Linked DNA regions of Homo sapiens. The protein of the gene in region 4 interacts with the protein of the main gene of each other region in a pairwise test. Each region holds a gene or a part of one and is shown on either strand. Other genes may lie near its edges.

What was found.
Region 1: the proteins of DYNC1I1 (region 4) and PNP interact in binary tests that used the Homo sapiens proteins (3 or more experiments, as listed by UniProt).
Region 2: the proteins of DYNC1I1 (region 4) and DYNLT3 interact in a two-hybrid assay, tested with the Homo sapiens proteins (one study listed by BioGRID).
Region 3: the proteins of DYNC1I1 (region 4) and FAM83D interact in binary tests that used the Homo sapiens proteins (3 or more experiments, as listed by UniProt).

What each region holds. Positions count from the first base shown.
Region 1 is NC_000014.9:20,464,288-20,472,405, forward strand, and holds the start of PNP (purine nucleoside phosphorylase), read left to right. Parts: upstream 1-5,118; 5' UTR 5,119-5,237; coding exon 5,238-5,248; intron 5,249-8,020; coding exon 8,021-8,118. UniProt on the Homo sapiens protein: Catalyzes the phosphorolytic breakdown of the N-glycosidic bond in the beta-(deoxy)ribonucleoside molecules, with the formation of the corresponding free purine bases and pentose-1-phosphate.
Region 2 is NC_000023.11:37,844,567-37,852,627, forward strand, and holds the start of DYNLT3 (dynein light chain Tctex-type 3), read right to left. Parts: upstream 3,006-8,061; 5' UTR 2,945-3,005; coding exon 2,915-2,944; intron 1,793-2,914; coding exon 1,751-1,792; intron 1-1,750. UniProt on the Homo sapiens protein: Acts as one of several non-catalytic accessory components of the cytoplasmic dynein 1 complex that are thought to be involved in linking dynein to cargos and to adapter proteins that regulate dynein function.
Region 3 is NC_000020.11:38,928,779-38,936,542, forward strand, and holds part of FAM83D (protein FAM83D), read left to right. Parts: intron 1-7,764.
Region 4 is NC_000007.14:96,027,278-96,035,041, forward strand, and holds part of DYNC1I1 (cytoplasmic dynein 1 intermediate chain 1), read left to right. Parts: intron 1-897; coding exon 898-1,044; intron 1,045-5,389; coding exon 5,390-5,503; intron 5,504-5,804; exon of another isoform or gene 5,805-5,882; intron 5,883-7,764. UniProt on the Homo sapiens protein: Acts as one of several non-catalytic accessory components of the cytoplasmic dynein 1 complex that are thought to be involved in linking dynein to cargos and to adapter proteins that regulate dynein function.

The DNA.
Region 1 (8,118 bases), on a different chromosome or scaffold from region 4:
ATGAAGTAACTTAAGCCCCATCTTGGGATAAATTTGCTGGGTACTGAACAATATTGTTAGCTGCAGTTGCAAGCAGGGAGGATATTCAGCTGGGGCACTACAGGGTGGCTGGCATTGGTTGTTTATGGCGCCATTGGTTCTGATTGGTTGGTACCTGTATTTTACAGATAAGCCATTTTAATATTATCTCTGGTAAATATTGAGTGTCTCAGGTATTGCCTGATTTTTACCTATGGGGTGGGATCTTCTCACTTAGATTGAGAACAGTTAGGCTATTGAGGTGTATTAATTTGCTAGGACATAAAAAACACTATAGATAGCATAAACGACAAACATTTATTTTCTCACAGCTCTGGAGTCTGGAAGCCCAAGATCAAGATATTGGCAGGTTTGCTTTCTCCTGAGGCTTCTCTCCTTAGCTTACAGATGGCCACCTTCTCACTGTGGCATAAATGGCCTTTTCTCTACACACATTTTTGCTTTCTCTTCCTCTTTCTCTTCTTTTTCCGTGCTTTTAGAGACAGGGTCTCACTCTGTCACCCAGGCAGGAGTGCAGTGGTGCAGTCATAGTCTGTGGCGGCCTTGAACTCCTGGGCACAAGCAGTCCTGCCACCTCAGTCTCCCAAGTAGCTGGGATGACAGGTGCATGCCACCATGCCTAGCTAATATTTTAATTTTTTGTAGAGACAGGGTCTCACTATGTTGCCCAGGCTGGTCATTGGTCTCTAACTCCTGGGCTCAAGTGATCCTCTTGCTTTGGTGTCCAAATGCTGGGATTACAGGTGAGCACCACCCTGCCTGGCCTCTCTTCTTCTTATGAGAACAACAGTCTTATTGGATTGTGGCCCCACCATTATGACCTCATTTAAACTTAATTACCTTTTTAAAGGACTTATCTCCAAATATAGTCACAATGAGGATTAGAGCGTCAATATAAGAATTTGGGGGAACACACTTCATTGTGTTATATAATAGAATAGATTTCAAAGCATTTTTTTCTTTAGATTTCCAACAAAGTGATAACTAGTACAGTGTGTACATGGCCAGAGGATGGGGTGGAAAACATCTGCTTGGCTTCTATGACCCAAAGTGTCCCAATCTGATTTCTTTTTTTTCACATATTCCACATGCCCTATTTCTTTTTTCCTCTTTCCTGAAGTGGTAATTTACCACCTGTGTGAAAACAACACAATCCCTTACTGCATTTCAAAGGCACAGAAAGTTTCTGGTAATGTGCAGAGTGAGTTAACTAAGACGAGGGGTAGTTTGCCGGGGGTTGGGTGGGATTGGGTAGGGTGTGACCTGGTTTTAAAGAATTAATTTACGTTAATTACATTGGGACTTTGCTCCCTTGTGCTCCTTGCTCTTCCTGGGCCTCAGTTCTTTGCTCTTTCCTTTAGGGAATTCCTGGCTTCCCTTTCTAGGAGCCAAGGTCTTTGGAATAGAGGGTGGTAGGCCAGTCCTTTATCTCTGCTCTGTTCTTCCTGCCACTGAGTGAGGCACAGATGGAAGTCTCACTCTTAGAAAAGAGAAATAAAAGTGATCCCTATAACAGAAAGAGAAGGGCTGGATGTGCTGGTTCATGCCCATAATCCCAGTACTTTGGGAGGCTGAGGTGGGAGGATCACTTGAGCCCAGGAGTTTGAGACCAGCCTGGGCAACATGAAGATACCCCATCTCTAAAAAAATAAAAATAAAAAATAGGCGAATGCGGTGGTGCGTGCCTGTAGTCCTAGCTACTTGGGAGGCAGAGGAAAGAGGATCGCTTGAGCCTAGGAGATTGAGGCTGCAGTGAGCTGAGATTGAGCCACTACACTCCAGCCTGGGTGGCAGAGCGAGACCCTATCTAAAAACAAACAAACAAACAACAACAAAAAAAAAACAGGGAAAAACCCTAAAATGTTTTAATTTCAGTAATTGGAGAAAATGGAAGACCAAAGATTATGGTGATAAGGGGAGTAGATATTTTATTTTATTTTTTGAGATAGGGTCTCACTCTGTCACTCAGACTGGAGTGCAGTGGCTCCATCACAGCTCACTGCAGCCTTGACTTCCTGGGCTCAGGTGATTCTCCTGCCTCAGCCTCCCTAGTAGCTGGGACCACAGATGCCACCACACCTGGCTAATTTTTGTATTTTTTGTAGAGATGAGACTTCACCATGTTGCTCAGGCTGGTCTCAAACTCCTGGGCTCAAGTAATCCTCCTGTCTTGGCTTCCCAAAGTGCTGGGATTACAGGTCTGAGGCACTGTGCCTGGCCAGGGATAGATATTTTTAAAACCGCATATTTAGCTTGTGATCTAGAGAGAATAAGAGATCTCAGTTGAGAGGGCAGGAATAAAATACGTTCCACAAGGCAATACTGAGTGACTTAGAACCTATTCCTGCCACTTTTTTTTAGTTTCCTTGATCTTGCGGGTGGAGGGTAAGTGTGTTACTAAGTATGTTCCTGGACAAGGAGTCCCTCTGAAGATAGAAGTGATGAGAAGATAGAAGAAAAGGTAATAAGGCATTAATGAACTCTAATCACACTAAGATTGATGATCGTCTGGTTCCTGTCTATAGGAATGCTACAGGAACTCTTTTACCCTAAAAGTAAATAATAAAGCACAGTTCCAGTTTCTTTTATGTGGATACAAGGTGGCAGTGACTAGAAAAGATAAGAACAGTGCTGTGCTCTAGCATAAAAACGTAATTATGCTATGCAATATGGTAGCCACTAACCACATGTGACTATCGAGAAGTTACAATGTAATTAGTATGATTAGGTAACTGAATTATTTTTATTATATTTCATCTTAATTAATTTTATTACTTTTAAATAGCCACACATGGCTAGTGCCTTCTGTTTTGAACAGTGTGGGATTCATTGGTATTGATAGGCTGGATATACCTCTAGTTTTTATTTTGATTCAATTTATGGTTAGGTGAGTCTAGAAAGAACAAAAGAGAAAGAGACAATGGAGATTAATCATAATAGCCAGCATTTAATGTGTGCTTATTATATATCCAGGCATTTACCTAAACATGTAAAAGGTATTCTGTATAATCCTTGCAAAAATACTAAGATTATTGCTATTTTACAGATGAAAAAATTGAAGCATAATAAGAATTTTACTTGCCTAGAATCACACGAGTAAATAAGGGGTGAAGATGGCATTCATACACAGGTAGTTTTATTAGAGCCCATTCATTTACACTACATAGATTCAGGAATGAGGTGGCATGGAGTGACTGGGGCCATGGTTCCCAAACTGTGCCAAAGTACAAGCTCACAAGGGTATTGTGGAATATTTTTAATTTTCAGAGGAAACACAGCAATATTTTATATTTCTTAAACACTGTGTGACCTATTAACTTGAGGTGATTCACAGTTGGAACATTAGATTGTGCTACATTCCTTTTGATGACAATATATCTGGCCAGGTGTGGTAGCTCATGCCTATACTCTCAGCACTTTGAGAGGCCGAGGTGGGCAGATCAGTTGAAGTCAGGAGTTCAAGGCCAGCTTGGCCAATATGGCAAAACCCCGTCTCTACTAAAAATACAAAAATTAGCCAGGCATGGTGGCAGGCACCTGTAATCCCAGCTACTCGGGAGGCTGAGGCAAAAGAATGGCTCAAACCCAGGCAGCAGAGATTGCAGTGAGGCAAGATCGTGCTACTGTACTCCAGCCTGGGTTACAGAGTGAAACCCTGTCTCAAAAATATATATATATATAAAGACAACATATCTTTACAAAAGATGGTTTTAGAAGGTCCCTCTGATAAAAATTAAGTATTAAGTAAAAAAAAAAAGTACTGTGTAAAAATCAGCATGGAACAGAAAATGAGGGTGGCAGCATTGGATTCCTGCATGTGAGAAGTTGAGTAGTGCCAAACAGATGTACATATCCCGTAAGTAACTGTTTGTGGTTATTTAAGAACGAAATTTTTTTTTCAATTTGTGTGCATTGTTATTTTCAAAGTGCTAGTAAGTTCTCAGGAACCAGCTACTCACTCTGTTGCCCAGGCTGGAGTGCAATGGTGTGATCTCAGGTCACTGCAACCTCCACCTCCCGGGTTCAAGCCATTCTCCCTGCCTCAGCCTCCCAAGTAGCTGGGATTACAGGCGCCTGCCACCACGCCCAGCTAATTTTTTGTATTTTTAGTACAGATGGGGTTTTGCCTTGTTGGCCAGGCTGGTCTCCGACACCTGACCTCAGGTGATCCACCCACCTCGGCCTCCCAAAGTGCTGGGATTACCGGCGTGAGCCACCGCGCCTGGCCTTTATATATAAATTTTTTTTTAATTTTTTAAATTAAAAATTAAATGTAAATTTAATGTAAAAATGTAAATTAAATGTAAAAATTAAATTGTAAATGTGGGCAGAAGTAATAGTTGTATTCTACCAAAGACACGCTATTTATGTTATATTCTGGTACCCGTGTATTCCGATAACAGAATTTTCTTCGTGGGAGGAGTCCTCTAGTTACCTGAATTGCTTGGATCAATATTGCGCAGATCAAGGGATTATCTGTGTCCCTACCCACCAAATCCATCCTTATCCTTTCTGTCGGCATCTAGGACCCCGGAATTCTTGCCTGAGAACTTTTTCTTCTCCCGGTCTGGGCCTGGATGTGCTCTCCTAAACCCTGTATCCTCCAAGTTAGCACTGTTGCCGGGGGCGACCCAGCTTCCCTTGTCCAGGGAGCAACTCAGACACAGTCTCGCTTCATTTTTATTCTGGGGTTGTACAATCTAAGGTATGAAATTTTTCCTTTTTGAATCTCTCACGGTTTGCTATTGACACAGCTGGAATGAGGTTGCAAGGAGAGGGCTGGGGGCTCTCCTCCCTACTTCTAGCCCTATTTCCGCATAGGCCTTCTTGCTGGGAACTCCTGCCCTGCGGACTGGAATGGGTACCGAGATGAAATGCTGGGTGCGCTCCGGCTCCCCCCGCCCGCCCCGGGGCAGAAGGTTTAGGGCTGGGAAGAACTCTGATTAGGTTTACAGCCCAGGTTCAGCCGATTGAATTAGGGTGTGTCACCATGGAGACAGGGCCGGCCCGCGTGCTCGCTTGCCATTGGCTGGGGACTCCAGGGCAAGGGATATAAGCCAGAGCCTAGACCAGTGAGCCAACTGTGCGAACCAGACCCGGCAGCCTTGCTCAGTTCAGCATAGCGGAGCGGATCCGATCGGATCGGAGCGGATCGGAGCACACCGGAGCAGGCTCATCGAGAAGGCGTCTGCGAGACCATGGAGAACGGGTGAGGAGGGCACCAGGCCCGCAGGACCCTTGGGGAGGGGCAGGTGCTGTGACCCGGGAACCTGGCACACTGGGCCCAGAGGGAGCTGGCGGAGGGAGCGAGCGCCCAGGGGATGCAGAGAGGCCTGGCACTGAGCCTAGTGTCGGGAGCAAGGCGGCAGAGTCATGCGGCAGCCAGCGCGGGCAGGGACGCACGCGGGAATCGAGCTGGGGTGGCGCCACCGGAGCAGGAAGGGGACAGGTCGGTGCGGTCTAAGCTACTCCGTAAAAGCAGCCGTTGTGTGTCTCCGTGTGTGTGTTAGGGGAACAAGTGGAGAGTGAGTATATGTATATATCCCTCACTCCATACCAGGAGGAGGTCTCCTCACCCCCTGCGCTCTTCATAAATTCCCATGCTAGGGTCTGGGTAAAGCTGCGAGGTACTTTTGGTGCTCAAATTCGGAGTTCCTCCTTTAGAGGCAAGATTACTCACCTCCTTTGCCAGTTGCACTCCTCCCTTCCTTCCAGACTGGCAGTATGATTAACTCGGTGGGAAGTGACTGCTAAGTGGAGACGGAAATCAGTCACCGAACTGAGCAACAGTCCTGTGCTCACTTCCCCCACCCCACGCCTTTGAAAACTCTTCTCTCGGCTTGGGTCCTGGATATCCCAGTCCAAGTGACCTGCATTAGGCATCACAGTTGCTTTTGGATGCCCAGGGAGCCAGGGTGTTCTTGAGGGGACTGATAGCCAATGAGGAAGTGCTGTGAGATGTGGCTAGACATGCCATGTGGCGGCAGCTTCACACATTCATTTCCTTTGCACCTTTTGGGGATGCCATTTGATTAACATTTTACCAGCTTAATTGCTTCTCTCCATTGTCCTGTGGCTCCGTTGACCAGCCCCCAACCTACCTGATCCAACTGCTTCCCTGAGGGTAGCCTGGTGTATTGTGCAATCATGTCTGGTTTCCCGGGCTCTGCTTTCCAAGTAAAAAATTTCCTGTGAAAGCTTGGTTAGTTGTGTTCAGCTCTGTCACACCTCATTGCCACCTCTGAAAGCAACGTTTGGTCTTCCCAGATGGATGTGAGAGAACTGGACTTGGAACTGGGAGAAAAGTAACACGGGTTGATTCTTGCTAGTGTAGGGGTTCTGGGTAAGTGCCCTGAGGTTTCTGAAGAGCAAAGATCCTCGGTGGAGAGAAAGGAAACTGGGAGGAGGCAGGGAGGGGGAAGGACAGGAAGAAGACCACAGGCAGGTGGAAAGCAGGAGAAAGATTCAAATACTTTGTGTAACAGAGCCATAGGTCTTTGGAAGTTGTTAGCAAGTATTCAATTCATTTTCAGATTGAGCCTATAAGATAGATGGGGCCAATTTACATCCCTTGTTTATACCTGAGAAAATAATTTAAAGCACAAATTACATGCCTAAAAAGACAATATTGGGACTAGAATCTAGGTCGAATTCTGCTTCCCTCCAGACCAGCAATTCCTAAACCTGGTTTTATTTTATTTTATTTTTATTTATTTATTTTGGAGTCGGAGTCTCGCTCTGTCTCCCAGGCTGGAGTTCAGTGGAGCGATCTTGGCTCACTGCAACCTCTGCCTCCCGGGTTCACACCATTCTACTGCCTCAGCCTCCCGTGTAGCTAGGACTACAGGGGCCCGCCACCACGCCCGGCTAATTTTTTTTTTTTTTTTTTTTTTTTTGTATTTTTAGTAGAGACGGGGTTTCAACATGTTAGCCAGGATGGTCTCGATCTCCTGACCTCGTGATCCGCCCACCTCGGCCTCCCAAAGTGCTGGGGTTACAGGCATGAGCCACCGCGCCCAGCCCCTAAACCTGGTTTTAAAATCAAAATTACATGGGCTTCAGAATCTGTTTTTTGTGGGGGTTTTGTGTGTGTGTGTGTGTGTGTTTTTTATAGGGTCTCACTCTGTCACCAGGCTGGAGTGCCAGAATCTGTTTTTCTAACAAGCTTCTGCTGAGAATTTGTGTAGTCAGTCCTGGTTTAACCTTTGACAACCAGTACTGTGGACTGGGTCTGCTTTTTTGTACAGCAGTTTATCTAGTTTTTTGTCTGGAATTAACCCCCTTGTGATCCAGGGAGCTAAGAATGGCACGTAGACCTCTACCAGGGGTGGTCCCATTGTGTTTTATTGGTTAAAACAAAAAAGAAATGTAGCCCTTAAGTCTTTGGCTGAGGAAGGAACTGGAGGAATGAGGGTTCAAAAGGAAATTTGAGTTTATCTCTGCCTTCATAGTAGTTGGTCTTAATTACATTTTGAATGTCTTTGGGGAACAGGTAAGGTAATAAGGGGGATTTTACTAGGTGGGCACCACCCTCAGGAAGGGCTTAATCCCATTTTGAGTACTCTTCTTGGGCTCCCTCCTGGCCAAGCCCTTTTACCCTCCCTAATTTGATTATTTCCTTGCACTTCCCCGTACACTCTGGCCCCTTCCTCTCTAAACCTTTGTCATAAGGATAAGTATGCAGCTTGCCAGTGTTCAGTGGATCCAACACTGGAGTTGGGCCTGTTAGTAGAAACAGGCTTTATTAACTTTTGCCAGGCTCTAGAATGGAGGTAGTTTCATATCAGACTTGTAGTGGGCTTGATTCAGAAAGAAGGGTGGCTGAGTAGATGGAAGAGCATAGTATGGCCTTTCCCTCTGTGCCAGCTTCTCCGTCCCTGCTGCCTCAGTATACCTGCCAGCCTTTTTGCACCGAAGGTCATTTGTCTGTGATGCCCTTGGAATGGGAGCAGAATTCACCTTGATATTTTTTCTCCCCCAGATACACCTATGAAGATTATAAGAACACTGCAGAATGGCTTCTGTCTCACACTAAGCACCGACCTCAAGTTGCAATAATCTGTGGTTCTGGATTAGGAG
Region 2 (8,061 bases), on a different chromosome or scaffold from region 4:
TATTTACACTGTTAGAAACATGTTTCTTTTCCACTCTGGATGTTTTCTTCAACGCAGAGGATTGTTCTTTAACATTCCTGGCCTCTTGTCCTGTCAGTTATTCCTCCCCATGGAGGTGGAATGAGTTACCTGGTTGGTGGGTGATAACCATTGTTCTAACATCTCATTTGGGAGTCTCCCAAATGTGTTGAACTTGGGCTTTAGTTTCTCCTTCCCTCTCCACCCAAACCAATGAAAGGCACCAGCCTGAACAAGTGTTTCTCTCTGCTGACTCAAACTTTCTCTTGGATGACTCTTCCCAGGGCTGAACTGAATGGGAGTTAGCAAAACAAGGTACAATCATCAAACTGGTTTTTATCAATAATAAAGGTGGTATTTTGTTCTCTTTCTAATGGCTCTTTTTTCTTTTCATTTGGTTCAGAACTTAAGGAAGAAGGCACTATTTAAATGGAATCCCAAATAGCCCAGCATTCTTTCTTTTATGTTCCATCAACCAAGGACAGTCTTTCCTGACTTGCCACTTTGAAAACTAAGATCACTCCCTTCTCATTACCTCCACTCCCTCTTCCACCTCCCAGTTTCCCTCATTTGTGCTTTTACATTGTAAAGGTATTAAAAACCTTTGCTTTCTACTTTTAATAATTAAATACTCTCAGGCTACATAGATAGAATGCATAATTCTGAAGTATTCAAATATGGCAGGATTTTCAGGTGCCTGTCTATTCCTCTCAGACCTTGAGTTAATTCTAGCTGTGTAAGGCCAGACCTGGGTGTCAAAAAATACCTTTCCCACACTGTGGTCTGTATGTGATACCTCTAAAATAATGAACGGTCCCCTGCCAGAATTAATTCCCAAAGGTAATTTCTTTTCTATTTGCCTAAAAGGAGTTTCAAATATTTTTCTTAAAATTTTGATTCACTATCATATCAATGCTTAAAATATGTTAAATGATCATTTTTTCCAATTATATTGGGCAAAAAAGTGTACATGCCCAAAGGCAGATATTTCTAGGGCTTTTGTTATCTATTTTATACAATATACATATATATTATACATATACTTTACATTATAAAAGTTGACGTGTGTACATATATATGCGTACATATACTTTATAGCATTAACATTTAAAATAATGTTTGCTTTCTGGAATAAAAGTTATTTTATCCAAAAGACAGGGCATCAATTTTAAACCAGTTTTCTAGACTAAGAAAATCCTTAAGCATCTCTTTCAGAATAAGCCTCAAGATGCTGATAGCACACAACAAAATATAGAAGGACCCCTATAAAGAGTTAGTGGATAAATATTTAAAATCTTGTTCTTGGCCGGGTGTGGTGGTTCACGCCTGCAATCCCAGCACTTTGGGAGGCCAAGGCGGGTGGATCACCGGAGGTCAGGAATTCGAAACCAGCCTGACCAATAAGGTGAAACCCCGTCTCTACTAAAAATACAAAAATTGGATGGGTGTGGTGGCGGGCGCCTGTAGACCCAGCTACTCGGGAGGCTGAGACAGGAGAATTGCTTGAACCCAGGAGGTGGAGGTTGCAGTGAGCTGAGATCACACCACTGTTCTCCAGCATGGGTGACAGAGCGAGACTCCATCTCAAAAAACAATAAAATAAAATAAAACAAAACAAAATATTCTTCTTTTAACAGTAAGGTTTCTAAGTTTGTGCTGAAACTCAAAATATAGCTTTTAAAAATCTCCACCAGTGCAGCAAGCTTCAAGAGAAACAAAATGTATGACTCACCTCTTTGACAATATTGTGGGCTTCCTCAGCATTGAAGCCAACCTAAAGGGAAAACAAAAGGTAAAGCTGCTTTCAACACAGGCTTACAAGTATGACGCTACACAGAATATCCTAGGCTGGCCTAGACAGGTGTTAAAGTGTTAAAGGGCATCAGGTCTACAGAAGGGGCCAATCTTGCCCCTAAACACTTAAAAATACTGAATGCTTTCCCTACCTACCTCCCGTGAGGTCTGGGGCAGAGCCTGCAAGTCTACATTTTTTTTTAAAAAAGTGCTTTATACTGGTGATTCTAATGAACATCCTAGATTAAGAATCATTGTATTGTAAAACGTAGGAAATAAGCAAGAGGTGACTATGAGGATGTTATGTGTCATAAGAATATAGAAATGGTTTCAGCTAAGTGAGAGAATGAAGTGGTCCATATGAAGAGAATGCTTAGTAGACTATTTTCAATTTTGTTTTTAACTTATGCTAGGCAAAAATTTCTAGGCAAAAATTCCTTTCCCAAATTAAAGATTATGAAAATACTTGATAACTCAAGATTAATATCACTTTAGTACTATAAAGTGGTCTGACAACTTAGTCTTTTCTTTGGAGTCCCCATCAATAACAGGGAGATAACAACTGACATCATGGGTTTCTGGTGAGGGTTGGGAAAGCCTGAGTCAGTAAGCAAGGGCTCGTAATCCATAAAGCACCTCCTTGCCTAATCCTGGCAAGCATTACCGGGAGCGGGAATGGCAGTGCCACCAGGACCCCGAGACTCCGAGCCATGGGGGCTGCAGCACCCGCGCTGAGGAAGCCAAGGGACGGAGGCAGCAGCGGGAAGACCCGTTTTCGAGGCCCGCCCGGTAGGAGGGCGGCGCCCGTCACCCCATGCCCACTCCTCGCACCCAAGTCAGGCCTCGTCCTCCCAACCCTGCCCCGACCCCACCGTCTGATCCGCGCGCTCCTGGCCACCCCTCCCACCCCGAATCTCAGGACTTTGGGGTGGGGAGAACGGGTCGGGCGGGGCGGATCCCGGGCCCAGGGGAGAGGACCCGGGCTCGGAGGACGCCGCACCCCAACTCTTGGGACCGCCCTCGCTGGGAGACCACCCGGCAAGAGCCCCGCGCAGAGGAAGGCGGGAGTGGGGGGCGCTCCCAGGTAGCCAAGGGGCGGTACCTCGTCGCAGTGGCGATGGTACTCCTCCATGGTAGCGCCGGCTCTCCCTGGGGCGGAGCGACACGCCGGTAGAGCACCGCGGCCGCGCACTGGCCTCCGGGGAGGCCCCACCCCCGTTTATGGCCTAGGGCCTTTCCCTACGCAATCCCCGCCTTTGTGTCGCAGTGGCGTCACCTGGCAGCGCTGGGCGGGCTTCGGGCAACGCCAGGCGTCACTTCAGGCCACGCACTTTTTCCTCGCTTCCTCTGCCCTTTCTGGAAACAAGGGATGAATGTAAAGAACTGGGAATGGCGCCAGTGTGGATCAGATGGGGTGACCTAGTGGCAGTTAGTCTAGACTCCGCACTAGTGGTTGAGTGCCCACTGCTGTGATTACTTGCACGTATTTGTTCATTCACCATCATGTGGCACATAAATGTAGTTAATTTCGTGGTAAACCAGCCACTTTGATTTGTCCACTTACTAGCTATGTTACTTGGAAAAATTCACCTCCCACAGCTTCAGTTTTCTCATATGGAAACTTACCATCATACCTATTTCACTACTGGTTGTAAGGATCTGATGAGAAGCTGTATACACGGCTCCTAAAGTAGATGCTTCTCAACAAGAGAACAATGACTACATTTTAAAATAAATGTAGTAATTTTAAATTAGTAATTTTAAAATAAATGTAGTAATTTTAAATTAGTAATTTTAAAATAAATTACTAATTTCCAGATGATCCTAGACACTTCCTCAAAACCTCACAATAAGTCAGAGGAGTTAGTTCTTCCATCACTGCTTTTATCAAGATGAAACTGAGGTATAGAGAATTTAATTTGCCCAAGGTCATACAGCCAGTAGGGTGTAGAAAAGGGACTTGAGCTCAAGTAGTCTGATAGCAGAGCCCAAGCTCTTAACCACTGTATTACTTTCCTATTGCTACTGTAACAAATTACCGTAAATGTAGTGCCTTAAAGAAACACAGTCCTGTTCTCTTACAGTTCTGTTACCAGTGTAGGGTGTCCAGGTTCTTGGCTCTTTGAACAAAGAATTGGACAAAACGCACAAACAAAGCAAGGAAAGAATGAAGCAACAAAAGCAGAGATTTATTGAAAACGAAAGTACACTCTACAGGGTGGGAGCGGGCAGAGAAGCCGCTCAAGGGCCGGGATCCAGAATCTTCTCTGGTCCAAATACCCCCTAGAGATTTCCCATTGGCCACTTGGTGTGCACCCCATGTAAATGAAGTAGTGGCCCACAATCAGAGGCTGAAGTTACAAAGGCCACACTCCTATGCAAACGTCTGATTGGTTGCAAGAAAGCAACCATCAGAGGCTAAAGTGAAGTTACAAAGTTGCACTTCTATTCAAACAAAGATTTGGCCCATAATCAGTTTGATTGGTTGCAGACAGCAACCAATCAGAGGCTGAAGTGAAGTTACAAAGTTCCACTCCTGTGCAAATGTCTGATTGGTTGCTTTTTGCTCTTTGGTTGCAAAAAGCAACCAATCAGAGGTACTTTAAATTTCCCATCTGCCCTGCAGAAAAGGTGGGGATTTGCAAAGGGAATAGCCTCTGGTCCTTTTGTTACTTAGGCATGGAAGGTATGGAAGGTTAGGGTTTTCCTTTTTTTTTTTTTTTTGAGACGGAGTTTCACTCTTGCTGCCCAGGCCGGAGTGCAATGGCGCGATCTCGGCTCACCCACGGCAACCTCCGCCTCTCGGGTTCAAGCGATTCTCCTGCCTCAGCCTTCTGAGTAGCTGAGATTACAGGCATGCACCACCACGCCCAGCTAATTTTGTATTTTTAGTAGAGACGGGGTTTCTCCATGTTGGTCAGGTTGGTTTCGAACTCCCGACTTCATCGACCTCAAGTGATCTGCCTGCCTCAGCCTCCCAAAGTGCTGGGATTACAGGCGTGAGCCACTGTGCCTGGCCAGGGTTTTCCTTTCAATTTAGTTCTATGAAGTAAGCGTGAAACAGTTTTAAGTTCCCTGCCTCCTGACCCTATTCTCCTGCCTCAGTTCTGGAGGTCAGAAGTCTAAAATGGGCCCATAGAGCTGCATGCCTTCTGGAGGCTCCAAGACAGACTCTGTTTCTTTGCCTTTTCCAGCTTCTAGAGATTGCCTGCATTCCTTGGCTCATGACCCCTTCCTCCAAATTCAAAGCCAGTAGTATCTTTTCTCCTCTCTCGCTTCTGCTTCAAAGGAAGTGTGAGGCATCTCTATAAACGAGAGATGTATGACTCTTGCCCTCCTGTTTCCCTCTCAAGACCCTTAACTTAATCACATATGCCATGTGTCTTTTGCACTCTGTATCATATTCACAGATTCTCAGAATTCAGATGTGGACAAATTTGAGGGGGAGCATTATTCAGCCAACCACAACACTTTTCTATTTTGCTCCCCAGAATCAAAGTTGGAAACCATTAGTCTTCTAGTCCATCTCCCTTATTTTACAAGTAAAACTGAAGCTGAGAAGATAAAGTAACTTCTACAGGGCACATAGGTGTTAACTGGACTCCTGGGCTTCTGAACCTCAGGCTCTTATTTTATGAACTTAGAACCAAACAAGGCTGTTTACTTGATAGTATGGTGTTTGTTATTGGTTCTCCTAAGTTGTGGATCATGCAGGGTTACTGCAGAAAAGTGACTGTAATTCATAGAGGAAGCACATCCTCTTTCAAGAATTTTTTTTACCAAAGTTTTCATCCTATGAGCAACTCCGGCAGTCTATTCATGAGAAGGATTCGTAGTGTCTTTGTGAACATCAGTTTTATTTCCCTAAAGAACTGTTTCTATGCCTGGGTGGGTTAAACCCTGAAGTTACCTAATCTTAATACTGCAAGAGCTACACCAGCACATCTCAAGTTTGTGTTATGTGATCATTCATGATGCATATAAAGTGAGATGAAGAAGTGTTGTTCCAGTTACCATTCCTGTGTAATAAATTACCCCAGAATTTAGCAGCTTATTTACTATATTATGCTCATGGATTCGTTTAGTCAGAAATTTGAACAAGGCACAGCAGAAATAATTTGCCTCTGCTCTGTGATGTCTGGGGCCTCAGGTGGGGAGACTCAAAGACTGGAGGAAATTCAATGGTGGGGACCAGAATCATCTGAAGACTTGTTCATTCACATGTCTGATATCTGGGCTTGGATGAATAAAATATTAGCACTTCCAACTGGAGCAACAACACATGGCCCCACCGAGTGGATTGGCTTCTTACCATCATGGCAACCTTAGGGTAGCCAGATCTTTTACATGGCAACTCAAGGCTCCAAGCATGAGGGTTCCATCGAGCATGGCAGAAGATATGTCACCTTTTATCACCTAGTGTCACGAGTTACACAGCAGCCCTTCTACCATACTCTAATCATTGAAACATTCACTCAGATTCAAGGGGAGGGGACACATAATCCACTTCTCAATGGGAGAAGTGTCAAATAATTTGGGGCTCATGCTTTAAAACTACAAGTGGGTTTATTAACTAGCATCCTGTGGTTGCAAGTAACAGAAGACCCAAATAGGATGAGCTGAAATAATGGCATTTATTTTTTTATATAACCAGACTGATATGGTTTGGATCTGTCCCCAGCAAATCTCATGTTGAATTGTAATCCCCAGTGTTGGAGGTGGAGCCTGGTGGGAGGTGATTGGATCATGGAGGCAGATTTCTCATGATGGGTAGCACCATCCCCTCAGTGCTGTTCTTGTGAGAGTAAGTGAGTGAGTTATTATGAGATCTGGCTGCTTAAAAGTGTGTAGCACCTCCCTCCTCTCTCTCTTCTTCCTGTTCTAGCCATGTAATATGTGCCTGCTTCCCCTTCACCTTCCACCATGATTGTAAGTTTCCTGAGGCCTCCCCAGAAGCAGGAGTCACTCTGCTTCCTGTGCAGCTTGCAGAACCACGAGCCAACTAAGCCTCTTTACTTCATAAATTATCCAGTCTCAGGTATTTCTCATTGCTGTAAAGCAATGAGAGAATAGACTAATACACAGACATACAGAGGCAGAGATATTCCAGGTTCGTTTAGTTGCTCAACAAATTTTGGGGCTTCTGTGCTTTTCATCTTTCCATGCCAATATCCTCAGCATGTCAGCAACATTTAGCCTCATGGTCATACACGGCTGCATTAGTTCTGGTATCGCTAGGAACAAAGATATCACGTTCAGTGACTAAGATGAGCATTTTCTGGGGTTGATCGGATTTTCTTAGGAAAGAAAATCTTTATTTCAAGTCCTCAGGAGTTTTCTCCTCAGGTTCCAGTGGCCAAGATTGGGCCACGTGACTCCCCACCGGGCAAAACATATGGGACAACAAATGTTTGTTTTTTCATTCTGTATGGTGAAAAGTGAGTTCTGCCAGCAAGAAAAAAAAAATTGATATAAAGTAAATGTTGGTAGGTCAGTCCTTTCCAAACTTTTCCATGCTATGGCCCACATAGAGGATAATACTTACATGGTACATTGAGGTAAACTGGAGGGGCTTGGTGGGCATCTGTATGGGGCTTGGTGAAAAAATATTTTCATTACTTTATATAATTATATGAAAAAATAAAATAGAAAGGGTGTTAAAATTGAATTTTTTAAAGCTTCCAAATAAAACCTCTTTCAATGCTTTAGTGAGACCCTCAATCTTGGTTTCACCCATATAATATTTTATATCTGGCTCTACGCATTGAACAGCCATAAGCAATTCCTGTTAATGAGTTTTTAATAATTAATTTTCCCTAAATATGAATAAATTATATTGTCTAGAAAGGTTTGCCATAGAAGCAGCTGATAAAAAACATTTGGACCCACTTTACAAACCACTAAAATTATATTTAAAGACTTCTGTAATGGTAGACTATGTAATTAGGACCATCTCTTTCACTGATAATTACAAAGGTTGGACAAAATATAATAGACATTTGCTCAAGGGAATTGGATTTTTTAACAAGATAGGGAAGAATTATGGATCTAAGACATAGAATAATGAAACCCAGAAAGATGAGCATGGCATTTGGGATAACTTTTTACCTCGAGGTGAGAAGATGTTAAGCCTTTTGCTTATGGGCCAAGGGGTAAAATAATCAGACTGCATGTCCTGCCAAGGAAGATGATTCTGGTAAACAGTCTTGCTTTGGGTTGAAACCCCATGGATTAAACCCTGGGAGTGAA
Region 3 (7,764 bases), on a different chromosome or scaffold from region 4:
AGATAGAACCTGCTGCCCTAGTCTAGCTACCCACAGTTCCCTCCGAGATGCTGTATTTGGAACCTGGGCAGTTTTAACTGAGAAAGGTGGTACATTACCTTTAAATCCAATGAGTATTGGCTGGGCACAGTGGCTCAAGCCTGTAATCCCAGCACTTTGGGAGGCTGAGGCAGGCAGATCACGAGGTCAGGAGTTCGAGACCAGCCTGGCCAACATCGTGAAACCCCGTCTCTACTAAAAATACAAAAATTAGCTGGACGTGGTGGTGCGTGCCTGTAATCCCAGCTACTTGGGAGGCTGAGGCAGGAGAATTGCTTGAACCTGGGAGGTGGAGGTTGTAGTGAGCTGAGATCACACCACTGGACTCCAGCTCTGGGCGACAGAGCAAGACTCCCTCTCGGAAAAAAAAAAAAAAAAAAATCCAATGAGTATTTTCAGTGTGTCCGATAGATGCCAAATTATTTGCTTACTCATTGCCTGCTGTGTATCAGACACTACCATGGCTGGGGCCACAGGGGAAGGCATCATCCTTGCCAACACTTGAGAGTGGACAGTGTGCTGATGGGAAACAGTGAGGAGTTTGCTGCAGGTACTGCGGAAAGGGCTAAAGAAAGAAAGTCTCCGGAGTGGCAGTGACCTCAGAGCTGGGTGGGGCTTGCCAGACCTAGGGTATGGGGGCTGGCCCACAAGTGTTTAAGGACCTGGAATGTTTGGGGGCAGCCAAATTCCCCACAGCGGGTTAGTGGTAGGAGAGGAAGCTGGGGTAAGGGATGCTGAAATGAGTTGGGTTTGAGACAGTGCTGAATTTGAGGTCCCAAAGACAATCTCTTTTGTTTAAAAAAAAAAAAAAAAGCCAGGCCATGGTATCATGTGCCTGTAGTCCCAGCTACTCAGGAGGCTGAGGCAGGAGGATCATTTGAGCCCAGGAGTTTGAGGCTGTAGTACACTATGACTACGCTGTGAATGGCTACTGCACTCCAGCCTGGGCAACACGGGGAGACCCTGTCTCTTTAAAAAAAAAAAAAAAAAAAGTAATGCTTTCTGTTTGCCAGGCACTGTTCTAGGTGATCCCAAGGAAGGTGCGATTATCATCTTCATTTTACAGCTGATAGAACTGAGGCATAGAGAAGTTAAGTGGCCCCGAAGTCATGCAGCTAGAGAATGAAGGAGCCTGTACTCAAATTGAGGCACAGAATGTCTGAACCACTGTTAACCACCACACTCCCTGTGGAGGGTTCAGGAGCCTGTGCTCAGGTGGGGAGAGGTGACAGCAGATCTGGTGGCTAGCTAAGAGCTACTACTATTTATGGGCATGCATTGTGGACAAGGGAGTGGCTGTGTCACCTTGACCACATCCTTTGAAATCTAGTACCTGTGACAGCGAGGACCATGAAGGTGTAGGTCTCAGGCTGCTTTCAGGATGAAATGAGAAGCTGTTCTGCATCCGTGTTCTGATAGCAAAGGTACCTAATGGTGATATGATTGAGCACTTTGAATGGGTCAGTTTCTGTGCTAAACCCTTGACCTGAATTACCTCATTTAACCCTCCCAACACTGGGAGGAGGCTACAATTAAGAAAAGACCAGGCACAGAGAAGTTAAGTAACTTGCCTGAGATCACACAGTTAGCATGGGACAGAGCTGGGCTCAAGCCCAAGTCTGTCTAGTTCCAGCTCTGAAGCTCAAGTGTTTTTTTTTTGTTGTTTGTTATTATTTTTTTTAAGACAGAGTCTTGCTCTGTCACCCACGCTGGAGTGCAGTGGCATGATCTTAGCTCACTGCAACCTCCACCTCCTGGATTCAAGTGACTCTCCTGACTCAGCCTCCCGAGTAGCTGGGATTACAGGAGCACACCACCATGCCCAGCTAATTTTTTCTTTTTTTTTTTGGAGACAGAGTTGCTCTTTTGGCCCAGGCTGGAGTGCAGTGGCACAGTCTCAGCTCTCAGTAACCTCTGCCTCCCAGGTTCAAGCGATTCTCCTACCTCAGCCTCCCAAGTAGCTGGGATTACAGGCACCCTCCACTAATTTTTGTATTTTTAGTAGAGATGGGGTTTCGCCATGTTGGCCAGGCTGGTCTTGATCTCCTGACCTCGCGATCTGCCTGCCTCAGCCTCCCAAAATGCTGGGATTACAGGCGTGAGCCACTGCGCCCGGCCAATTTTTGTGTTTTTAGTAGAGATGGGTTTCGCCATGTTGCCCAGGCTGGTGTTGAACTCCTGGGCTCAAGTGATTCACCTGCCTTGGCCTCCCAAAGTGCTGGGATTACAGGCGTGAGCCGCTGTGCCCGGCCACTGAAGCCCACACTCCTAATCCCTGCTGCATACAGCCTCCCTGCCATGAGGAAGGATTGGAGCTTTGGTAGTTTTCAACAGGCTGAAGGTTTGTAACAGTTGAAGATTGGGACTTTTTAATTTCCATGTTGCGTATTCTATAAACAGGAAAATGACAATGACTAGACCTGTCCTTTTCAGGAAGAAAACGAGGTGGTCAGTTTTTAGAGTAGGAGGCATTAAGGCTGGCAGAGAACCTCCTCAACCCATCAAGTGGGGAAGGTGGTTCATGATGCCAGGAGAACATAGGTCTCTGAGTTTAGGTTTTGTAAACTAGAGTGTGTTTTCCTCTCCCTGGGAAAGATAGAGCCAGATAGATGTTTCTGGTACCTGGAGCAGAGGGATCTGTGAGAATCTTTTGGTGGGTGAATGAAGGAACTTTGAATGCCACATGAAGGGTCCCACTTAACCCCAGAGGTTGGGGCCAGGCTGCAGTAGAGCACGGTCGAACCTCAGTGTTCGCTCCATGCAGCTTTATCTGCCTTCACTGAGGTGGTCTGAGGACCACCCTGCATCTTCAGGAATGTCTCTGGAAGGAGCCAGGATACGAGGCTCCTTGACCAGAGTATAGGCACAGGAAGCCAGGGTTACTTGGTAAATGGTAGGGCCTAATCCTGGCTTTGCAGCCTGAAGCGCTGGTTCTGGGATAGGTTTTATCCAGCAGCTCTCTGACCACACAGAATCACTCAGTGTGTCTGATACATAAAAGATGCTCAGTAAATACTGTAGGGGCCTATTATGTGCACCTTTGCTCATTCAGCTACATGCTTTGAGGAGAAATAAAGGGCAGGGGGAAGGGAGCGGTAGATAGGAAGAAAAGTAGTTCAGGTGATTCTGTCTGCCTTTCCACTCAGCAAGTATTTGTCCCTGGGTGGCTGTGCCTGGGGTTTGTGAATCTGCCAGCCCCTTCCTTGACTCTTGTTTCTATATACCTTTCAAAGTGTGGGCATTCTGCCACACTGAATGAGGTACAGTGTTTAAAAACAAATGGTTTGGCCATGCGCGGTGGCTCATGCCTGTAATCCCAGTGTTTTGGGAGGTCAAGGCTGGAGGATTCCTTGAGGCCAGGAGTTTGAGACCAGCCTGGGCAACATAGCGAGATCCCATCTCTACAAAAAGTTAAAAAATTAGCCGGGTGTGGTGGCATGTGCCTGTAGTTCCAGCTACTCAGCAGGCTGAGGCAGGAGGATTACTTGAGCCCAGGAGTTGGAGGCTGTAGTAAGCTATGATCATGCCAGTGCACTCCAGCTTGGGTGACAGGGCAAGACCCTGTTTCTAAAAAATAAATAAAAACACAATTACGTATAGCATGGCTTGAATACAAGCTGGCTGCTTACCAGGTGCTCAGGCGAGCTTCACCAAAATTGGAGGAAATACTGTTTTGAACCTTTTGAGAACCCATATGTTTGTTTCCTAAGCAAGTTTTTGGATAATCTTGAATTATACAGGATATTTTCCCTACATACTTGCTGTAGATCCACCCCTCCACCACTGTATCTGTTGATGACGCATTCAGCTTTTTGCCTCTGTTGCTGTGTGAACTGGGATTTGGCTGGGCTGTGGCCGCCTGCCTGGAAGGGCTACATAGCCTCATTTTGGCAATGTGCTTATGAATTGGCTGTCCGGCTATTCCTGGTTTGTTGAATGAGAGTTCAGAGGCAAAGCTGGTACCACCACGAGGTTCCAATTCCTCAGAGTCACGTTTCTTACCAGTGCCTATTCTCTTTTGTTCCAAAGAGGCCACTTTTGCTATGACCTCACCCTCGGGCATCCTCTTGATAACCTGAGCGTTAGTAGTGGGGATCATTGCGTTCCCAGAGAGCCCTGCCAGGAGGAGTAGCAGCTTAGGAATCTGTTGGGGGCCCCTGGCATTTACTTGGATGTATCTGAATGAAGGCTTTCCTGTTCTTGCACAACTTTCCTCTGCATTACAGTAGAGCCTGTGTGGTGTGATCAGTTTCTGTTCCAAATGCTCATGTCAGCCCCAAGCAGGGCTTCTCACCCTCAGCACTGTTGACCTTTTGGGTTGGATAATTCTTTGTCCTGAGGGGCTGTCTTGTACATTGTAGGACGTTGAGTAGCATCCATGGCCCCCATTCACTCGATGCCAATAGCATCCCTCACACCAGGTAGTCATGATATTCAGTGTCTCCAGAGTGGGAAATAGTGAGTTACTGATGAATGGGCACAGAGTTTCTGTTTGGGGCTATGAAAAAGTTTTAGAAACAGATGGTAGTGATGGTTGTGAATGTAATTATTGCCACTGAATTGTACACTTAAAAATTATTAAGATGGCAAACTTATCTATTTTACCACAATAAAAAAATGTCTCCAGACATTGCTAAATGCCCTGTGGGGGCAAAATCGCCCTCCAGTTGTGAACCACTGGCCTAGAAGTTCTCACTAGTGCATCATTATGGGACATTACCCACTGGACTGAAGTGTTGCTACTATTTATCCCTTCCTTTTGATTTCATGTGTCAGGTTAAGGATTTTAGAATTTAGCCATTTCTCTTTAAAAATATTGTGGTAAAAAATACGTAGCAAAATTTACCATTTTAACCATTTGTAAGTGTACAGTTCAGTGGCATTAAATACATTCACACTGTTGTGCAGCTGTCACTAGCCGAATCTCCAGAGCTGTTTCAGCTTCCCAAAGTGAACCTCTGTACCCATTAAACACTAGCTCTTCATACCCTCCTTTCCTGGCCCCGGCAACCACCATTCTACTTTCTGTCTGCCATTTCTTTCTTTCTTTTTTTTTTTTTGAGAGTCTCGCTCTGTCGCCAGGCTGGAGTGCAGTGGCACCATCTCAGCTCACTGCAACTTCTGCCTCCCGGGTTCAAGCGATTCCCCTGCCTCAGCCTCCCAAGTAGCTGGGACTACAGGTGCCCGCTACCACGCCCGGCTAATTTTTTTGTATTTTAGTAGAAACAGGGTTTCACCATGTCGGCCAGCATGGTCTCAAGCTCCTGACGTCGTGATCTGCCCTCCTCGGCCTCCCAAAGTGCTGAGATTACAGGCGTGAGCTACCATGCCTGGCCTCTGTCTGCCATTTCTTTATTCTTTTCCCTTAGCGTCTAGCAGACAGTAATGAAGCTGCAGAATTCTTCTCTGACTTCTTTATGGATAGAAGGTATGTTACTTCAGGAAAAAAGCAAGCAAAACCCAAAAATGTAGTGGATATATTGGCTTAAAAAAATCTTGAACCCGGTCTCTACTAAAAATACAAAATTAGCTGGTTGTGGTGGTACATGCCTGTAATCCTGGCTACTTGGGAGGCCGAGGCAGGAGAATAGCTTGAACCTGGGAGGTGGAGGTTGTGATGAGCCAAGATCGTGCCATTGCACTCCGGCCTGGGCAACAAGAGTGAAACTCCGTCTCAAAAAAAAAAAAAAAAAAAAATTCTTGATGCAAATGATATAACCTCTGGAAGGGAATTTGGCAATATCTAGCAAAATTTCAGTTATATTTACCCATTGATCTACCACTTCCACTTCTCTGTATCTTGATATATTGGCAAAAATATGAATAGTTGTAGACAATAGGCCATGCGTTGCAACACTAATTATAATAGCAAAACACAGGAAAGAGTTCAGGTGTTCGTCAGTAGAGGATGAGTTCATCATTGTGAATGAACCGATTCGTCTCTGCAGTGGAACATCCTGTAGCTCTAAGAAGGAATGAGGACTAGCTCTGATATGCGGTATCTAGAATGGTACTGACCAGTGTAGTAGCCATATGAGGCTATTAAAATTTATATGGATTAAAATTAAATAAAGATTCAGTTCTGTCATCTTGGAAGGTTCTATTGGGCCACGCTAGTCTAGAACAATGTGTAGTATTCCATGCTACCTTTTACCTATAGGGGGATATAAGCACATATACATAGTTATATACATAATACACATGTTTATATAAAACAAATATGTTTATATACACCTGTGTATACTTGTTTATATTGAAAAAATGGAAGAATATACAAAAAACTATTGGAAATATTATCTCAATGGGGAGGAGGGACAAGGATGGAAACTAAGTATCTTTGAAAGTACCTTGTTTTGTAAATTGGATTTTGGAACTAGGCAAATGTTTTACATACTTATAAAATAAAAACAATTCAAAATGATAAGCCCTCCTCCCCCTACCCCCTAACTTCTTGGTGCTTTTCCCTCCCCTTTGAAAAGCCCACCTGCTTGTGTACTTCATGCTGGAATAGTACAGAGTACTGAATAGTGGTCAGTCCCTCCAGAGATCAGTGAAAACTTTGCTCCTGCCACCCTCTGGTGGCCCTGCCAGCACTTTCATCTAATACTTAAATTGTTTTATTTGGTTGCTTGTTTGTTTGTTTGAGACAAGTTCTCATTCTGTTGCCCAGGCTAGAGTGCAGTGGTGCAATCATGACTCACTGCAGCCTCGACCTCCCAGGCTCAAGTAATCCTCCTGCCTCAGACTCCCGAGTAACTGGGACTTAAAGGCACATGCCACCACGCCCAGATAATTAAAAAAATTTTTTCTGGAGACAGGATGTCAACTGTGTTGCCCAGAGTGGTCTCAAACTCCTGGCCTCAAGTGATCCTCCCACCTTAGCCTCCTAAAGTATTGGGATTACAGATGTGAGCCACCGTGCCGGGCCTAAATTGTTAATTTGATAATAGCCTCTGAAACAGAGGGAGAACAGTGCACACAAGCAAGTTTAGGTTTCGCTGTGGGAATTTACATTCTTTTTTGTTTTTAAACCCCAAAGATGTCAAGATAGTTACTTAAAGGTTTTTGACAAAATCCCAAGGAGATTATTTCTGTTCTATTAAAACATGTAATACATGGAGAGAAAATATATCTTTTGCTTTTTTAGCAAGAGGGTCCTGAGAGAGTTAGGAGAGGAAGTGAAGGGTCAATGGAGGCCATGTGGTCAGCTGGGAGAATGCAGCAGCCAGGATGTTATTGACCACAGCACAGGCTGACATTGAGTGGGTGCAGATCTTTGGTGGAATTCCAAGCATGTTGCACACCTGACCTCACTTTATGACTCTGGGAGGGAAGGGAGGGAAACTGAGGTGCAGTGAGAAGGGGTGATCGGTACGAACTTCCTCCTTCACACAGAGGAAGAAGAGCTAGAATGAGAACTGGAATGACTGGCCCTGAGGGGCCTGTTGGGGCTGCACATGTGCCTGGTCAGAGCCTAGACCTGCCCATTGAGTGTGTATGAATCACTGACTTCGCAGAGCTGGAAGGGTTCCTTGTTTCAAGGACACCGAGACTCAGATGGAATGGCTTGTCCAGGGATAGTGACGGAATCGGGACTAAGAATATGAGTAGCTGCCATTTAAGGGCTTTCCATATGCCAGGAACTGCCAGCAAACACTATGAGATAGGTACTGTCAATCATCCGTGGTGAGCTTGAGCCCATGCACTTCATGGGCTACGCCACTG
Region 4 (7,764 bases):
AATGTATTGACTAAAAACAATTACTTTAGCTTATAAATGCAAATATGAAAAGTACCGTAGGAATCAAAATGGTCTTAGCAGATGCAAAACAGTTACTTCTCTGACTTTAAGTGCATTATGGTTCTATCTCAGCTAAGTAATTTCCTACAAAATGTACTGCCCAGTAGTCTTTTATGGAGCTTCAGAAACCACATTTGTGACAGACTATGACAGACCATGGCAGAGCTGGACTGAGATCCATTTCTGGTTGTTTGTTAAAATAGGCAAGGAATAACATTAAGAATTTTCTGAAGTGGGCAGAATTAAGATCAGGAAGAATGCCCATGGGAGGTGAGGGAATTTTAGGAGGAGCCAATTGGATCAGTCTGAGGTCAGTATACTTCCTGGAAGTCTACATTAAGGGAAAAACAAAAAGAAGACCTCATCTTAAAGGCCTTGAATCTAGAATTACTCTGCCTTTACCAACACTGCAAATTGTGTAACTTGATGTGGCCATGCTCTCAAAGTAAAGAATTGCTTAGTAAAGGCTTTAGTGGAGAATTAATATTAGTTCTGTTGCAATTCTATGTGACAAATGGGAAATGTCCATAAAGCAAGATTTACAGACCACAAAACAATGATGTACTTAAGATAGGTTTCATACCTATTTGATAAAATGGACAGGACTTCAAATTTCAGATTTCAAGCAGTAACCATTGGTCAGCCTCTCCAAAGAAAGTCCTGTGCCTATGTACAAAATTTCTTAGTAACTATGCACTTTTACAGTCCCAGCTTTAAATTATTTTTTTGTTTTCCAGGATGTGTTGAGTTTATGTGATGAACTGTTTTCAGGAAGAAACAAGTCACCTACAACCATTTCACATTGCATCTCTCTCTCTCTCTCCTTTTCCCTGACAGTCCTCTGTGATGTCGGTCTGCTTCGCCCGTTTCCATCCTAACTTGGTGGTTGGTGGGACTTACTCGGGCCAGATTGTCCTCTGGGACAATCGCAGTCATCGAAGGACTCCAGTGCAGCGGACACCCTTATCAGCTGCTGCACACACGGTAATGCAAACTTTTGCCATATCCCTGTGAGCCGCCAGGCCCTGAAAGAGAAAATAACTCTACTCAAAAAAGTATGGATGTTTTCAGTAATGCCAAGTTAGGAGGATCTACTTTATTATGATTGAATCCTGACCAGCTAAAAGTTGAGTGAAAAGTAGATGAAGGAAGCACTGGCTTTAGGGATGTCTCTTAATAACCTACATGTGCTAGCATGTAGGGAGGATCTCCTTGGCTCTCCCAAAGGCCACCAGTGAAGAGAAACCTTGGAAGAGGCATCTGTGGAATTGTTTTCCCAAAGAAACCCTATGCATTTACATTATAAGGTGGAAACACGTATTTTCAAATAGATCCTGAAGAGTAAGGATTTCACATCAAGGGATGATATATGGGACTTTTGCCAACTGGCCTTTTCCATGTGTGATTTGAGAGAGTACTTTGACTTTAAATTCTGGAATGTGTGGTGTAAGTCTCAACATAAAGTCTACAGTGACAATATAATCCCTGGGGTTAAAAGTCAACATCTCAAAACCATTACCCATAATTTAGTAGAAGAGGTTCAGTATAGTGTTCATAAGACAACTACTCTGTCATTTCCTTTAAAAGAATGACAGGTGTGTACAGCAATTGTTCAGAGGAATGAGAAGACAGGCGTGTCTCCATCAATCCTTGCTACCTTGACACTCAGGGTAACTGATGTTCTTTCTCTGAAATGCCCAAATTATGCCCAAGGATACAGCTTTACTCTTGTTTTCAATTTCCTTAATGTGCTTGCTGCATTTGTTTCATATGCTGGACTCAAAAGCACTCTGGCATGAAAAAGGACTGCCAGCTGTTTAGCTAAGTCCATGAGGAGGAAAAATCTCCTACTCTTGTAAGATTATCAATGGGAAATGACAAATACCAAGTCAGCCCCAATTCTGATTGACTGGGGCCAAAGACACTTGCAGGTGAAACTAGTTCTTGGGAATCTTGGGAAATTGCTCTTGCCTGCCCCATTTCCCCAAACTAATAACAGAAAATTGTGGCCCAGGAGAAGGTGGGCTTGATGCAGGTGTTTGGTGAAGTAGTGTGAAACCATGCCTTGGCCCTGTTTGGATGGCTGGTGTATTTCTGAACATACCTTCTGAAATTTCCAAAATTGTAAATCCAAATGTTAGAACATTTAGCAGTAAGCTTTTGGGGAAAATTCAAAACCAGGAGCTCTTCCAAAAAATTAACATTTCTTTTGTGAGTAACTTAGAGTGTGATCATCACAACTAAAATACTATTATTATCAAACTTACTGATGTTATTTCTGTTAGAAAATAAAATAGGCCAGGCATGGTGGCTCACACCTCTAATGCCAGCATTTTGGGAGGCCAAGACAGGTGGATCACTTGAGGGGTTCGAGACCAGGCTGGCCAACATGGAGAAACGCTGTCTCTACTAAAAATACAAAAAGTAGCTGGGTGTGGTGGTGCACGCCTGTAATCCTAGCTTCTTGGGAGGCTAAGGCATAAGAATCGCTTGAAACCAGGAGGCAGAGGTAGGAGTGTGCCAAGATTTTACCACTGCACTGCAGCCTGGGCAACAGAGGGAGACTTCCTCTAAAAAAAAAAAAAGAAAGAAAAAGAAAGGAAAAAGAAACAAAACTTGTCCACTTTTCGCTTTTGCTGTTTTGTTGTTGTTGTTGTTGTTGTTTTGGTTTTTTTCAGGGGGATTTTGTTTGTTTGTTTTCTCTAATCTATAGCTAAAAGTGAACAGTTAATTTTGTGACTGTCTTTCAACTTTCACTATTGGCTGACTGATTGGTACCAGGATCAAAAAGGAAAAAGAGGCCCACCACAGATTACTCACTAATTTCCTTTCACACCCACCACACATATGCATTTGAGACAACAGGAAATCATAAGTAAAACAAAATCCCTCAGGCACACAGTAAGTTTATTTCCAAGATAAATAAAAACAATCTGGCATCTATACTGGAAAAATGGGTATACTGTAGCTTTCTTCTTCCTTAATGGTAGAGTTGTGTGTGTGTGTGTGTGTGTGTGTGTGTGTGTGTGTGTGTGTGTGTAGGCATGCTCCAGTGTCTGCTTCTGTTTTGGTTTCATTACACCTCTTTTTTCTCTTAAACTGAGTTTTATTACTCATGGAAGCACAGGCCAGTAGTGCTGATTAAAGCCTGGGAGGGGCTGCCACACACACTTTCTCCGGGCACATGGCTCTACACATTCTTCTAGACTTGCTTTCTTTCTCTGCTGGACCTTTCTGAGTCTTAATCCATTAGTGTTTAATGATTTGTGTTGATGCTCAGTGGTTATCAAAGAAGCCCCACTGGACTCTTGTTGAAAAACAAGATGGATTTCAGGTTCATAACAGTATTTGGACCCTGCCTTCCCATTCTTCAGTTTTACTAAGTCTATACCATTTTCAGGTGAAAATTTGTTACATCCAATCTTCCATTTGATTTCCACACAGAGGTTAGCATGCTGTGTGGCTCCGGGCTTGATAATACACTGCCTGGGGCTCTACATACACCAGAGACTTGGGAAAGAGCATTGCCTACAATCCCACAACCAGTCAGCCTTCCTGATACTTAGAGAACTGATTGGGATAACATTTAGCTTCAGATCTCTGCTGTACTTACTATGTGCAGATCCACTAAGGCTGACTCATTTGGAAGTTTCAGTAGGGACATGGTGTGAAAGACATAGGGACTTAGCTGACTGTCCATCAGCACGGGGGAAAGAGGTGATATAATTGTCAAAAAAGCAGATGTAATCTTAGCATGCATTAAATGCAGGCATATTTTTTATCACATGAGAAGTGATAATTCAATGCTACCCAGGTTTCTATATTCTGCTGGTCAGAATATAGGTAGACAGTTCTGTTTTATTCTCAGAACCTCACTGGAAGAGGAATCAGACAAAATACAGCATTTTCAAAAGAGATTCACCAGGATAGGAAAGGTTTTGAAAACCAGGTACCCAAGGAACAGATGAAGGAATTAGTGACAGTCTGGGTAAGAAAAGATTTGGCAGGGAGAGGAGTAACAGGGAACAACTATCTATAAATATTCAAAAAGCTGTACTGTTTTGACTTGATTAGTTTGGTTTGGTCCCACAGGGCACTGCACTGGAAGTATCTCCTTGAACTTTCTTTATCCCCATTAGTGGAAGAAAAAACTCCCCCAGGATACTACGAAAACTGGCTGCCCTTTAAGGAAGGTGTTTAAGCAGAGTTTGGACCACCTCTTGGTTGAGGCAGATGAGTAGCTACATTAGATGATTATTACCACTCCTTCTGACCAGCAGTTTATATGATAATAATAGTTTGGGAACCATCCTTTATACAATAGCAACTTTCCAATATTAAATATTGTTTCATTGTAGTTGTGGCTAGGTATTATGGACAGTAACTCACCAAGGGTAAGACTGATACTGTCAGCTATTTGCACAAAGAAGCACCAAGTAAGTGTGGTTTGGCCACTGGTGGCTGAACTGCCTGAAATCTAACCCAAATTGCTGTAGGTTCTGCTCATAGTAACCTTCCATTTTGTGTTTAATACACAGCTGCAAATGATTTTAGCCTACCGTTTAGAATTCTGCAGAGTGGGATAACCCACTAGAGTATGACAGAGGGTTACAACATCTTGTGTATGGTTCCTGGGATGTATAAATGACCTTTCTCAATGCCCTGGCCAAATCTAAGCCTCTATACTACTGCAAACGGTATTTTGAAAAATAAATATATTATTATCCTAGATTTTGCAGTAACATAGAAGAACCTAATTTTATCTCACCAGGTACATTGTGCCAATAATCTCACCACTAGTATCTCTCCCCCAGATTAAAATGGTTATGAATATTAACCACTTTTTATAAAGAATGTTAACAAATGTTTGGCATTGTGACTATAATGCATTAAACTCCAGATTTAGTAACATGTATTCCTTCCAAAAGTCAGTAGTTCTACCCTTTTGAAGACTGTCTTTTTCCATCACTCTTGTTGAGCTTAGAAGCCAAACTATGCGGTGGAGACTTATTCAAGTAGTTCAAATTCACCTCCCTGCATTGCCTCTGCCCCATCAAACCTCATTTGTTCTAGCGTCCTTCTGTTCCACTGCATTGCATTCTGACTGAGCAAGGTGAAGCTTTATAAGTATTTCCACTATTATGTGTTGCTGCCAGAGCTTTTAGAAAGAAATCAGGTTCAAATCAAAAGCGGCAAATGACCTGACGCTTGTATTATAGTAGGATTATGTTACTCTTTAATCCTTGTTTTAGAGTAATGTGTTTGACACTCAAATGTAAGCATTTCCTCTTGGATCTGTCTCTGATCCTCTTTGTTTATGTTTTTGCAGCATCCCGTGTACTGTGTAAATGTTGTTGGGACCCAGAATGCTCATAACCTCATCACTGTCTCCACTGATGGCAAAATGTGTTCCTGGAGCCTGGACATGCTCTCAACTCCACAGGTGGGTTTGTTTTTCCCTACACATAACACCATCCTGGTTAAAAGAGATACCTACTTAATGGAACATAGTTCCTAAAAGCCAAACCCTCACATCCTAGAGGAGCTAAAACAAATGGATGCACTTGAAAGAGTGGGGCCTGCTTTCAGCAATCTTCTCTTGAAGCCAAAACCCATTTCCTTTACCACAAATCATGTAATTATTGTAATACATTAATCCTTAGGTCAGTTTCAAGTGAAAATGAAATAATCCATTCTAAATCATAGTAATTATGGAAGTTGCCTATGGTATGAATTGCACTTACCCTACAGCATTGTTGAACAGATGCAGACGAGGTTGGAGCTCAGCAGAGCAATCCCTTATGGGTACTTGCATTGGAGGGAAGGTAACCCAGCAAAACAGAAATCCAAGCCCTTGCTTGTATCCGTAGCCTAGACAACAGCCTGTGTGTATGAAGAAACCATCTGTTTTCCCCTCTGGAATGTTTTTTAGTATGGCTCCTGTCATTCCTTGCTCAGTAAATGAGAAGTCAAAAATGAAAAAGTTCCAAAGTCTGCAAACCAATACTGATTGCAACAGTGGGGACCAAACAAAGGAATAGAAGTGGGAGAGGCTGTCAAAGGGAGACAACTAAATGCAACTTGCAAGATATGCATATGTAGACAAACACACAAGACATGCGCATACACACATGAACACATACACACACGCTTTTTCCATATTTCTTTGTGTGAAAAAACAGTATTCACTATCCTCCAACCAAAAACAACAGAGAAGTCATTGTTATAGACTTTGACAAAAATGTAAGGAAACATGGAGAAAACTGCAAAACAATATCTAGGAGATAATTCTCAATGTTAACATTCCCATATTCTTTCCCAGGATAAAAACCCTAGAATGTCTCTCACACAATTTTAGAAGAAGTTAAAGTTTCAAAATGTACATAAGGAGACAGGGCACGGTGGCTCACACTTGTAATCCCAGCACTTTGGGAGGCCGAGGTGAGAGAATCATTTAAGCCTAGGAGTTCAAGACCAGCCTAGGCAACAGAGCAAGACCCTTTTTCTACTAAAACTTAAAAAGTTAGCTGGGTGTGCTAGCACATGTCTGTAGTCCATGTTCCTTGGGAGGCTCAGGCAGGAGGATTGCTTAAGCCCAGGAGTTCGAGGTTGCAGTGAACTATTATCACACCACTGCACTCCAGTCTGGGTGACGGAGTGAGACTTTGTCTCTTGAAAAAAATAATTATTATTATTATTATACACACACACATGCACACACACAAAAGGAAATATGGAAACTGTGAAGAACCAACCTCCTTTAAGCCTCCACAAAATACGGATGTAAAGAATACTACGTTTTTTTAAAATAATTTTAGGGAGAAAAAGGAGAGAGTGCTAATAAGCTGCTTACAATTGAAGTTCCACTATTTTCGCTGATCTTTAACATTATAGAGGGCTGGAGGGATTGGTATTTTATGGCTTTGTCTTAAAATTCTCAGCAATGTTTTGTTTTCTTTTAAAAGCCTGAAGATTATAAACAGACATAAGAGCAAGCCCACTATTTAGGAATTTTTAATTGCCCATTTTGCTCATTACACATATTTATTTAGGTTAAAACCAGTAATATGGTGGCTCTAAGTCCGTTTGTATTAGTTTTAGCATGCTCACAGACTCCTGTGTCTATACAAAGATGGAGGATTTCGTGACATGGCTTCCATGGATGGCAGGGAGGAATAGGGGCATCCAACAGTTGGCCTGGTCTTTCTCTCTCCCAAATGGGTAAAGGGACTTTTCCTTCCTTGCTGCTAATTTTAGTGATGAAGCAGATCATTGGATGATCCAGTTATCTGTATGACATAGTCACAGCATCCTCTCCTTTATCCCAGTTGCTGATGTGCACCCTATGTGTGGATATCACAAACTTTGAACACATCACAGGATCAGAATCAGTCTGTGTTGCTTAGACTGTTAGCTTGCACTTTCAATTTAATGGACTCCTTGGCTGAAATAGTTTATTTGCACAAGAAAGACTAAACTCTCAAGCAACTATAATGATATGATACCTCAGAATGATTTTTTAAAAATTATTTCAGATGCACAAAATAGGCTATTTGATGTAAATAGCCAGAAATACTCAGGGATATTAGTTATAATTGATTATTCTTTTCTGTCATTAAACTTAACTCAGCAGTATATCTTTTAAGATTAGGAATCTTTAATTCTCAATTTTAAAAAATCATATTATAAAATAAAGACTCCCAT